3 linked regions of the Homo sapiens genome follow. The protein of the gene in region 2 interacts with the protein of the main gene of each other region in a pairwise test. Each region holds a gene or a part of one and is shown on either strand. Other genes may lie near its edges.

The links. Proteins that work in one complex are often made in the same cells at the same time.
Region 1: the proteins of SH3YL1 (region 2) and SYNJ1 interact in a two-hybrid assay, tested with the Homo sapiens proteins (one large-scale study listed by BioGRID and IntAct).
Region 3: the proteins of SH3YL1 (region 2) and PRB3 interact in a two-hybrid assay, tested with the Homo sapiens proteins (one large-scale study listed by BioGRID).

Annotation. Positions count from the first base shown.
Region 1 is NC_000021.9:32,644,514-32,648,013, reverse strand, and holds part of SYNJ1 (synaptojanin-1), read left to right. Parts: intron 1-1,411; coding exon 1,412-1,621; intron 1,622-2,224; coding exon 2,225-2,368; intron 2,369-3,007; coding exon 3,008-3,046; intron 3,047-3,500. UniProt on the Homo sapiens protein: Phosphatase that acts on various phosphoinositides, including phosphatidylinositol 4-phosphate, phosphatidylinositol (4,5)-bisphosphate and phosphatidylinositol (3,4,5)-trisphosphate. Has a role in clathrin-mediated endocytosis.
Region 2 is NC_000002.12:247,033-250,532, forward strand, and holds part of SH3YL1 (SH3 domain-containing YSC84-like protein 1), read right to left. Parts: intron 2,813-3,500; coding exon 2,699-2,812; intron 571-2,698; coding exon 506-570; intron 1-505.
Region 3 is NC_000012.12:11,266,908-11,271,202, forward strand, and holds the start of PRB3 (basic salivary proline-rich protein 3 isoform 2 precursor), read right to left. Parts: upstream 2,801-4,295; 5' UTR 2,763-2,800; coding exon 2,699-2,762; intron 1,762-2,698; coding exon 1,726-1,761; intron 1,242-1,725; coding exon 286-1,241; 3' UTR 269-285; intron 1-268. UniProt on the Homo sapiens protein: Acts as a receptor for the Gram-negative bacterium F.nucleatum.

The DNA.
Region 1 (3,500 bases), on a different chromosome or scaffold from region 2:
ATCTTAAGACTTCCCTCTTCTCTGTGAAGTGTTGAAGTGATCTGCAGGAGTGGGACAGCTCACAGTTTCAGGAGGGTTAAGGAGTTTTGCAGTAAAGCTCCTGAAGAGCAAAGGGTGAGGGGAAGAGCAAACCAGCAAATCATGGAATTGCCAGGCACTTTAGGCCAGAAGAGACTGAAAAGCATAATTTCAAATGTGACTGCAGTTGTCAGGACTGGGTGGTTTTCTTTAGCAGAGGCAGTCAGCAATCCAAGTGTTATCACAGAAAGATTAAACAGGGGAATCAGTGCAGGGATGGGGTTATGTCAAGCACGTGCAATGGAAGAAGAGTGAAGTAGGGTAATGTTTGAGATGAAGAACCATAGAATCTGAAGGTAGGTACAGAAGAAAGCAGAATCAGATGGAGGTAAAAGTTAGAGGGATCAAACCCTGGCTTCTGAAGAAATCAAAAGAGAAGGAGTAGCCAAGGGAGAGAACTGAAAAGCTGGGAGGCCAAAGTCAGAGTGAAGCTTTTGAGTTTATTATTTCAGAAGAGTGCAGTTCTGAGGGGTGAGGGTTAGGAGTGAAGGCGAATGTCCATAAGGATAGGACCAAGGCATTTTGCTATTGAACGAGTTGTCCACATGGACTTTGATGCCACGCAGAAAGATGGTGCGGGACCTGACTTACAGTCTTGCTCTCTGCTTAGTCCTCAGTGAGTGGGTTCAGGAAATGGAAGAATGGACGTTGGAGATGACTGTAGCAAGTGGGGGTAGAGGATGTTACATAAATTCCTGATGGCATAGCCTCAGAGCAGTAGGACTTTTTGTTCAGGGTTGGAAGACTAATGTTCTGGAATGGCAGTTAGGTTGCAAGGGTTACCTTGTGCCCACTTTCCTACCCAGAAGTAAGTGGAGATGAGGAGACCCTGGGGGAGAACCAGTGTTTACTTAATTAAAGCAAAGCGGGTCTTTGTGGGGTGAGGGTTGCAGGGAGGAGCCTTCTGGGGGAAGACTGTGTGGCTCCTGAGAGCTTGTTGACTCTGAGGCTGGACCTGGGTTAGGCAAGGGAGTGGGGCAGTTCCACAGAGCACAGTGGACAGGTTTGGAAGGAGAGCAGGAAACTTGAGTTGGCTTGCACTGGAGAAGCTGCTCTGGGGCATATTGAAAGCCCATTGGGTCACCCCAGCTCCAAGTGGTTGGTCACCTGACATCTTATTGCTCAGAGACAATAGATACCTTTACATCTTCTGAAACAAGCATTTCTACTAATTGTGGTTTTATACATGCCTTCATGCTTAATCCATGTGTGTTTGCAATGACATAATGTTCATATTTGTTTTGTGTATTTTAACTTTTTAAAACCTAAGGTGAAAAAAATCTCTGAGCAAGTTAAAATGGAGTTATCTCTGATCAAGCCTGCTTTTCCTTAGGTGATGTTGATGACTATAGTGCTGAAGTGGAGGAACTTCTTCCTCAGCATCTCCAGCCATCTTCAAGTTCCGGCCTTGGTACTTCCCCCAGCTCTTCACCCCGAACTAGTCCCTGCCAGTCACCTACAATATCAGAGGGTCCTGTACCTTCCCTTCCCATCAGACCAAGCCGAGCACCGTCAAGAACTCCTGGGCCTCCCAGTGCACAGAGTATGCATTTTATTTGAAAGTTTTGTATGGCTTCCTGTGGCCAATGTGCTTGATGTTGGAGAGTCATCGTTTAAGTTTCATACCTAGGTGATAAAGTGCACCCTGTTTTCTCCGGTACAGAATAGGAAAACTTGTAGATGATAAGCTCTCAATGGAAAGGAAACTTGCTATAACTGTCACTAGATGACAATTGTTCTTAATCTTTTTTCTATGTGGTTAGGTTTGTCTATGTCTTATAACTGATGATTTTCTATGGTATGAACCCGTTAACTATTTGAGCTTTTTCTTCTCTCTACTGGCCAGACTACAAAATGGCTTAACTCAAACAATACTTTGTGCATATCAATAGGGCCACTTAGTAAATTAGCTTTCAGCACCTGAGGCCTAGGTAAGAAGTCAGCACAGAGGTAGCATTATTGCTGCCATGGTACCAAAGGGCAGTTTAATAGTAGACTGCTTTTGTTATTCATACTGAAAATACATGCCCTTTCTTTACACCATTGTGCACATTTTATAGAACATTACACATATATATGAAGGACTGTTCCCTTCTGTCAACAGCTACTTAGAAGCTGATCTTCTTACCTCCTGTGCGCTTTTTAGGTTCTCCTATTGACGCGCAGCCAGCAACGCCGCTGCCGCAGAAAGACCCCGCCCAGCCCTTGGAGCCCAAGCGGCCGCCGCCGCCCCGCCCGGTCGCCCCTCCCACACGCCCGGCTCCCCCACAGAGACCTCCTCCGCCTTCAGGTGACAACCTTTTATTTCCATTTCTGCTAGATGTAAAATTCTTCACTCTATTTTAAAATGTTTTGCATGTTTTCCAATCTCTAGCTTCTGGATTTTACAGTTTTTTCTATCATTATTGCTATTTCTTAGCTTTTCTCTAAAGAACATGGTAGGCGCAACAGACAAGGTAGAGTGTTTGCAGAGTAGATTCCTCTAAGGTGTTTTCACAGCTGCCTTTAGCTGCCTTCTCACCAGCCAGCCAGAGAGGTTTATTTTGTTTTTGCTAATTTGATCTAGTTAGGCATGTAAACTGTTCTTAGGTAAAATTAGGTTTAATTTTTTTCAAAATCCTCATTTCTGGATGATTTATAAGCATAAAATAATTAAAATGTACTAATTTCTGTAAAAGTATAATAAAACTGGAGAGCATACGTATTAATGTACAATTGTATGTATTTGTTTAATGTTCTTTTAAATTAAATATAGTGCTGTTACTTCAATTATAAGCATATGCATTGAATAATAGTTTTTGTAGTACGTAGATAATATGTAATTCCTGCATGATACTTGATGTCATGGATACTATAGCAATCTTTGACATTTCACTTCTGTATTTAATGTCATTTCCTTTCTGCTGCCTATTTTCTTATGAACTATAAGGGGCTAGGAGTCCTGCACCCACTAGAAAGGAATTTGGAGGTAACCATTTACATTTGTTAGCATGTGTGAATCGTGGTTCATTAATGTTTTACACCTGAAAGACATTTTAGATTTGTTTGATAAAAGTCAAAATGAATGACATTCTAGTTTAAAACTAATCCACAAATAAAACTAATAAAGGCTTTCATTTCCCAGGTAGGCTGGGATTGTTCATCAGGCCTAATTTTTTTTTTAATAAATGTGGTCGATTCATTTACAAAGATTTAATACCCAAAAGTTATATTAATTTTAAAAGTCATTCAGGTACAGTAAATACAGAACATTTCCCAAGTATCTGATTAGTGATACATTTATTTTCTAGTGGAAAAGCTTTTGGATTAGCAAAGAACTGTATGATTTTCTTTTCCTTTCTTCATAAGGAAATTTTTATTCACAAAGGGTCACTTTTTGTTTGAAGTATAGTTTATTTGGTTTACATGAAAACTCACAGAGC
Region 2 (3,500 bases):
TGTGCATGTCTGCCCGACAGACGCCACAATCCCAGGAGCAACATTATAAACTGAAATAACGTGAAGTTCTTCTTTACTTAAAGAATGTGGAGGGATTTGAATATCATATGTTACAAAACTGGATTTTGCCACAAATGATGATGCACTGCCCACGTAATTTCAATGCCCACTGAAGGAGAACAGTGGCTTTGCCATGAGCAGTCCATAAACTGCCAATGACAGCTGGCCAGGTGTTGGGATGTGCCTGTTATACAAATGTGCATGAGACAGAAGCAGATAAAATGGCGAATGAAAGAAATCCTACTACTAAGGAAAGAAAAGGAAAGTAAATGGGAACCATCAGATAGCTTTAGTTAGACATTCATCGAGAAAATAAAGGAAACAATTTTTCCTAAGTGCCAATGGTAACAATAAGAACGCTAGGAAACCTCTCAGTTTTCACAGGTTGCATCTTAGGTGTCTTCAGAGGATATGGCAGTTGTATGGACGTGCACAAGCTACTTACCTCAATTCCTATTTCAAATCCTCCACCAAGGCCAGCTATCCCAATGGCTGAGGGTGCAGACCATTCTAATAAAAAAACAAACGAACGTTATCCTAACATTAAAACACCCTCGACATGTAAATATAGGAAGGAAAAATGCTAAAATCTAAAGAGTGCTTCTATTGAAAATAATGAGACTTGGTATTTCCCCTGATTTTAAAGTGATCTTCAAAAAGAATATGTAATTTTTAAAAAGTTAAAAATATTTTTAAAGTATTAGATATTCATTATGAGTCTCATAGCCTCACAAGCCCATGTCCTCTAATCTTTCTCTACCAACATGCATAAGACCACCAACTACTGGTTCCCTAACCATTAGCCATACAGAGCACTTGGTAACTTCAACTGTCAATATTTTTATAGAACAACTTAGCTGTAGGTCTAGTCTTCAGCTAGAATTTTGTCACAGATTTAAGAGATCAGAAGGATTCGAGAGAGTTGATTATCTAACGGTAACATAATAATTGTTTCCATTGTAAATTTCTGAGGGCAAAAACTGTTTTAACACCTCTCGTGCTTAAGCAGAATAAATAGGCTATAAATTCAAGGTTATTAAAATTCTAACAAGATAAATCACATTTAGAAACTAAGTACAGTAATTCCATTTGCCATGATACGGCACATTTTAGGATTACTATATGCTTATTTTTCTTGATATAGAAACTCATGTTAAACAAGTCTAGAAAAATGTATTTTCAATTTGGTGGGGGGATGGTCTGGCCAAAGCACTTTTTGAAAATGGTTGCTACCATGCATGCTAGATACTAGAATATTGCTGAAATATATCCAGAACTATCCTACCCAGGCTTAGAGAAGTTTGGCTTACAGAAATTAGTGTCTGATAATTTTTCGTTCCCTATGTTAGGAACTGTCCCTGTGTTAAGATGGCTGGTCTTGGCCAGGATCCTGGGGAACATGTTGTGTCTTATTTGGACAGTTTTTAAATTACTCTCAGCAGAGTCAGCAGCTGCAGCTCAGGAAGAAGGGAGAGAAATGTAGGTTTTAAAACCAGTAGAAAGGTTTGCTGGGGCTCTGAGAGGAGCCCAGGGCTTGGTATTGACTGTCCCTACCCTTGGTCAGCAAGTCACCCCATCAATGGAGCAGTTGGGGACCTGAGACATGCAGGGACTTTCTCACAGACTCTGAGTCCCATCTGACAATGGGCTCCCTTGGAATGTGCCTCTACTTTGTTTGGTTTTACTGCTGAGAAGTCTGCTCATGGAAATTTGGATAATGCTTGAGAAAAAGAGAATTATTTTCTTCTCATTTTCAAAGCCACACATTGAGCTATGAAAACTGATCCACATAATAAGGAAGAGGTTTTTGTTGACTGCGGGGATACCTTGGTAAGAAATGGTGAATCTGCTGACTGCTATTTCAAGGCCATATATTTCACAAATGTATATATTGTATATTTATTGTCTGTAAGTGTCCCATGCTCTCTCAAAATAAAATAAAATTATGCTAAAAAACTGCTACTAATAGAAAAACGTGTTCACTGAACAGCAAATGTTAAATTGGTATAAAAAACATTTTAGTTAGTTTTGACACACCTGTGTCCATTTTAAATACTACTATAAATGTTAGTACTTGGGATTCATGGCAAATATTTTGATTTCATCTCTAAAGAATCAAGTAGTAGATTTCATCCCAGAAAGTAAAACTCGATGATACTGCTCTTGATATGATTCTGCCTTGGGGAAAACTCTTCAAATGTCACAGTTTTTATGATCTACCACAGAAACAAAGAAATTCACATATGGCCCCTTATTTTCATATCAATTTCCATAAAACAAAAGAAAGCAGCTACACCATGAAGTTGAGGAATAAGAATTCATATTAAACAAAAGAAATGCACATACTGCCATGTTTCAATATTTGCTCCACGGAAGAATTACAAAATGCATGCAAAACAAAGTTATATCTACCTGTCTTGTCTTCTCTAATATTTTGAGGACAGAGAGAGACGGAAAGGCTGGTTCCTGTGGCTTGTTCACTGACACCAAACTGCACGTTCAGTCGAGTAGCCCTTATTACATAAGTTTTAGTTGATATGCAGGAAACCTGTCCTACTCGCTATGCAATGTGTTCACATGAAAACAGACAGAACAAAGAATGAAGACTCTCTACTCCAGTGAACAGACGCCAACTTACTTCCATCTGGAAGGCGCGCCACTACAATCCCGCTGCCTCCTCTGGCAGTCACCAGGAACCCGGCTTTGATCACAGACAGAATTGCAAGGCCTTTAGCCTTCGCAATTACGTGAGCTGTTAACGTGGAAAACAATGGGAAGGTAAGCATTTTGATCTATGTGCCTGGATAGACGAGCAAGTGTTAAACAGAGTCAGTGTACACAGAGGTTATCTCTAGGAATTCGGGGCACACAGGAGCAATGAACAAAAGTCAGTCACTCAACAGATGGGCACGAGGCCTCTCTATTCCCATGAATGTTTTTTGTGTTTGCTATTTTTGCAGTGCTAAACACAACATCATAAATATCCTCACATCCTGTAACTGACAAAATAAATTAGATATTTGAAAGAGATTTTATTGCTATCTATTAGCAGGGCAAATATTTTGGCAATTTCAATTAATTTAGGATATAGTACATAAAAGATAAAAGCTACATTTTCAAAGAAATTAAGATCCATATAGTATTAAGGAGAAACTTTAAAAATTACAAAAAGGCAGCATGAATTAGAACTTTGATCTTAAAGCCACGTAGCTAAATTAACCTTGTATTAATATAAAAATTTGGATTCAAAAACAGAAAAATTAAGTAATTTTCCAATGTTAAAACATTTTCAACTTTATAAAATGATCTGCTATAGCATTTGAGTACCACTTAACTATTAGTACACTGATAATATAATTCCATTTAAAAATATTGGTTTATTCACATGTCAGAGATGTTCATTACATAAAATGAGGGTTATTGGTATATGTATCCACTGA
Region 3 (4,295 bases), on a different chromosome or scaffold from region 2:
AAGAATGGACATGGTACTACTTCCTCATTGCCAACACAATTTAAGACAGATTGTATGGTATGTTGTTTCTCAACATCAGAGTTCCTTAAAGAGTTTGTTAGAAATACAGGGTCTTCTTACCCTATTCCAGAGTATCTGAATACAAATCTTTAGAAATGGGTTCTAGGACAATACAATGTCAATGGGTTTTTAGTTGATTCATTGGCACAATAAAGTTGGAGAACTGTAACACTTAGAGCACTTGGTGAAGAATAAACTGGAATCATACCTGTCATTGAACCTTGATTACTGGGGAGGCTGTCCCTGGGGAGGTCTGTGTGGTCTGCCCCCTTGAGGAGGTGGAGGTGGTCCCTGGGGCTTTCCAGCGGGAGGTGGCAGAGGCTGCTGGGGATTGCCTCCTGGTGGGGGTGGTCCTTGTGGCCTTCCTGGAGGAGGGGGACGTTGAGGTTTGTTACCTTCTTGTGGGGGTGGTCCTTGTGGCTTTCCTGGATGAGGTGGGGGACCTTGAGGTTTGTTGCCTCCTTGTGAAGGTGGTCCTTCTGGCTTTCCTGGACGAGGTGGGGGACCTTGGGACTGGTTTCCTCCTTGTGGGGGTGGTCCTTCTGGCTTTCCTGGACGAGGTGGGGGACCTTGAGGTTTGTTGCCTCCTTGTGGGGGTGGTCCTTCTGGCTTTCCCGGACGAGGTGGGGGACCTTGGGACTGGTTTCCTCCTTGTGGGGGTGGTCCTTCTGGCTTTCCCGGACGAGGTGGGGGACCTTGGGACTGGTTTCCTCCTTGTGGGGGTGGTCCTTCTGGCTTTCCCGGATGAGGCGGGGGACCTTGGGACTGGTTTCCTCCTTGTGGGGGTGGTCCTTCTGGCTTTCCCGGACGAGGCGGGGGACCTTGGGACTGGTTTCCTCCTTGTGGGGGTGGTCCTTCTGGCTTTCCCGGACGAGGCGGGGGACCTTGGGACTGGTTTCCTCCTTGTGGGGGTGGTCCTTCTGGCTTTCCCGGACGAGGTGGGGGACCTTGGGACTGGTTTCCTCCTTGTGGGGGTTGTCCTTCTGGCTTTCCCGGACGAGGTGGGGGACCTTGGGACTGGTTTCCTCCTTGTGGGGGTGGTCCTTCTGGCTTTCCTGGACGAGGTGGGGGACCTTGGGACTGGTTGCCTCCTTGTGGGGGTCGTCCTTCTGGCTTTCCTGGAGGAGGTGGGGTACGTTGGGGCTGGTTTCCTCCTTGTGGGCGTCGTCCTTCTGGCTTTCCTGGAGGAGGTGGACACACGGCATTCACTGAATAGTTGCCGCAAATTTTTACAGTAACGCAGCTAAATGGGGAAATGCACAAAAATAAGACCCAGACACTAATTTCTTTGCATTTTCAGTGAAGCTCTAGAACTCTGGAGTGGAATGCTGGAGAAGAAGGAAGCAGTTGAGGGGCTCTCAGTCTAAGGAGGAGTCAGAATAAGGACACTGGCCATTTGTCTGTCATCTCCCAGCAGGCACTCCTGGCAGGAGGGAAGTCAACCCACTCCCGTTTTCATCTAAGCCAAGCATCTCTGCCATTCAATTTGGTGGCCCTGCTCATGGTCCCCAAAATCAAGGTTGCATGAAGATTGCCTGCATTATTAGGGGGACTAATATTAATCAATTTCTAAAGGAAAATGTTGGTGAGAAGACACTGGAGAACTGATCCATTCATAAGCAGAAGAAGATAGTTAAAACAGATTGAGAGTGAATTGGGATTTACCTGATATTACGGAGGGAGATTCTTCCTGGCTGACATCTAGAAGAGAAGCACAGGATGATGGGAAAGGTTACATCTCGAATTTTGCAAGATTCACAGGTGTTCTACAGGGAAAGGGGACTTCTCACCACACCCCATGCATCCCCTAGGTTAGCTCATCAGCTACCATCTGTGAAGCTGCTGGAAGGGGAGGAAGGTGTAAGGGGAGGCAGGGTTGTTACCACACAGAGCAACAGCCATGAACTCAATATAGAAGAGCCCCTTTTTTTCTTCCCTAGCATCCTTCAAGACTTAATGCTAATTTAGTTTACACATGCCAGGTACTTCAATGTGATATTTTGGTATTCTTATGCCCTCCATCTCCTATAAATACATTGCTTATATTCACAAGCTTTCTCAATTTCGGTAACCAGAAGTAATTGTTTCAATACAATCTTACCTATACCACTCCCAGCACATTGAAATACTGTGTGTAGGGGAAAGAAAAATCACAATGATTGAATCTGATATTTCTATATCTGTAGTTAGACACAGGCAAGTGTTTTATCCAGTTCTGTCTCTGCAGTATCTCTAATGTGTGTTTATCTCCATCATCAATGCTGATCCACTAGGTAGAGCAAGGCCACAATCATCCCTGTGTACTTACTGAGATCAGTTTAGGATCTTCACAGCTGGACTTTCCTGAATCTGCCTTGCATTCACCACTGCATCCTTCACAGCACAGTTCTATCTCTCTATAAATGCAAATCTTACCTTCTCATTCCCCTGGTACAAATTCTTTATTGGATTTTCATTGTACATTAAATAAATTAGAAGCCCTTGGTGTGGAATGAGGGCACAACAGGTCTCCTGATCCTAGGCATGAAACCTCTGCAGCCCCATCTGTGTTTTCATTCTCCTCTCTTCCCCATAATTACAACTATCACCTCCTAAGCCCCAAGCAGAGTCACCACATCTTCTCCTCCTTCTGTCTTACCTTCATTTAAGCTCTGAGCTGAGCTCAGGGCCAGCAGGGCCACCGACAGCAGAATCAGTAGCATCTTGCTGGAGGCTCTGGAGTCACTCCCAACTCTGTGCTGGGAGAACCATGGCAGCTCCCTTTATAAAGAGGAGCAGAACAGTGGCACCTTTGAGCTCCACACTGGGTGGGCCTCACCACCCCAGAGACTGGGTTCTGCTTTCCTTACTGCAGGTCAGGTGTATCCCTTATTTCTGTCTGGGACTCTAGCCCAGAGGAACAGGTTGGGTTGGATGTTGTTTGTACCTTATTTCTAAAAGGTACAACTATGACTTGAACAAAGGTTTTAAAGGAACTGTGTCCAAGCAATCAGCACGGTGTCATAATTGAACTTCAGACGTCATTAGAGTTTCAATCTTTTTGGTAAGACTATTGTCCACTTTCAACTTTGCTATTTATTTCTGTGTATGTGTGTGTGGGCAGTGAAGCTACAGCCAGCGGTGATGATGATCAATATCTCTGGCTGTTTTTATAGCCTATTTCCATCTCTCGTGATGTGTGTGTACAGAGAGTATCACATTTAGCTTAACTTTTGATGCGATAGAGATAGTTTCTGCTATCTGGGAGATGTTTGAGGACAGCACACTCCTGGGCACACAGATGACAGAAGGCTGCCTCACAGCCTACTCAGGCTACAGCTATTGTTCATGCTTCTGTGGATCTCACTCAAGTCAGGAAAGGCTTCTTGTTGTGAAACACAGGAAGGCCAAAATTGTGTATTTTAAAGTATCTTTAGGGGTTATGAATGCAAAATGGACACACAAACCACGAGGAAATTTCTAGACCTGAGAAAACTGAATATATAGTTCCTTGCAGGAACCATGCAATATCATGTTGCCAAAACTTCCTTCATGCTCTTCCCTTTCTCTAGAATATTCTACAAAATTCACCCTCTGCTTCATTTCTTTTAAGAATTGTATTGAATTCCTACCTCTGATAATTAAGTGGCTACAATTCTACATTCAAATAAGGTAATCAGATACCCTCATTAAAGCCTCAATTGCATTGTATTGGTTTTCTTGGTTTAGTCAGTATTTGTGTTACCTGTTTTCTCAGATTGTTCTTCCACAAAGAGTATTTTTTCTACAATATTCTGATATGCATTCCTCCCTGACGTTCTTTCTGGTACTTCTTTGTTCATATTTTATTTTCTGAGTCAAGCTCATTTTGTGTAATTTTCTTTATATATCTGGCTTTTTTCCCCAGGAATTTGGTAAGATTTCCTTTATTTAATCTTCTAAGTAATAAGCTATAATTCTCACCACCTTTGTTTCATTCTTGTCTGTGTAATTTCACAATAAATGTTGTGTTTCCAAAAAGCCCTCTCAGAGTCCTGCATTGTTAGCACTTCTTTTAGCTGCTGATTCTTCTGTTATACCTAGTAAATCCCTGCTCATCAGTTCATGGAATATACAGGTTAGTCAGTGAGTCAGCTGCCATTTACCACTTAGACCTTCTGTGTGTCTTGTGTAATTGTTCACATTTTGTGCATGGCTGGTATTAATTTGAGGACAGCTTGGCTGGAGGTATGATGGAGGTAGAGAGGGTATGTGAC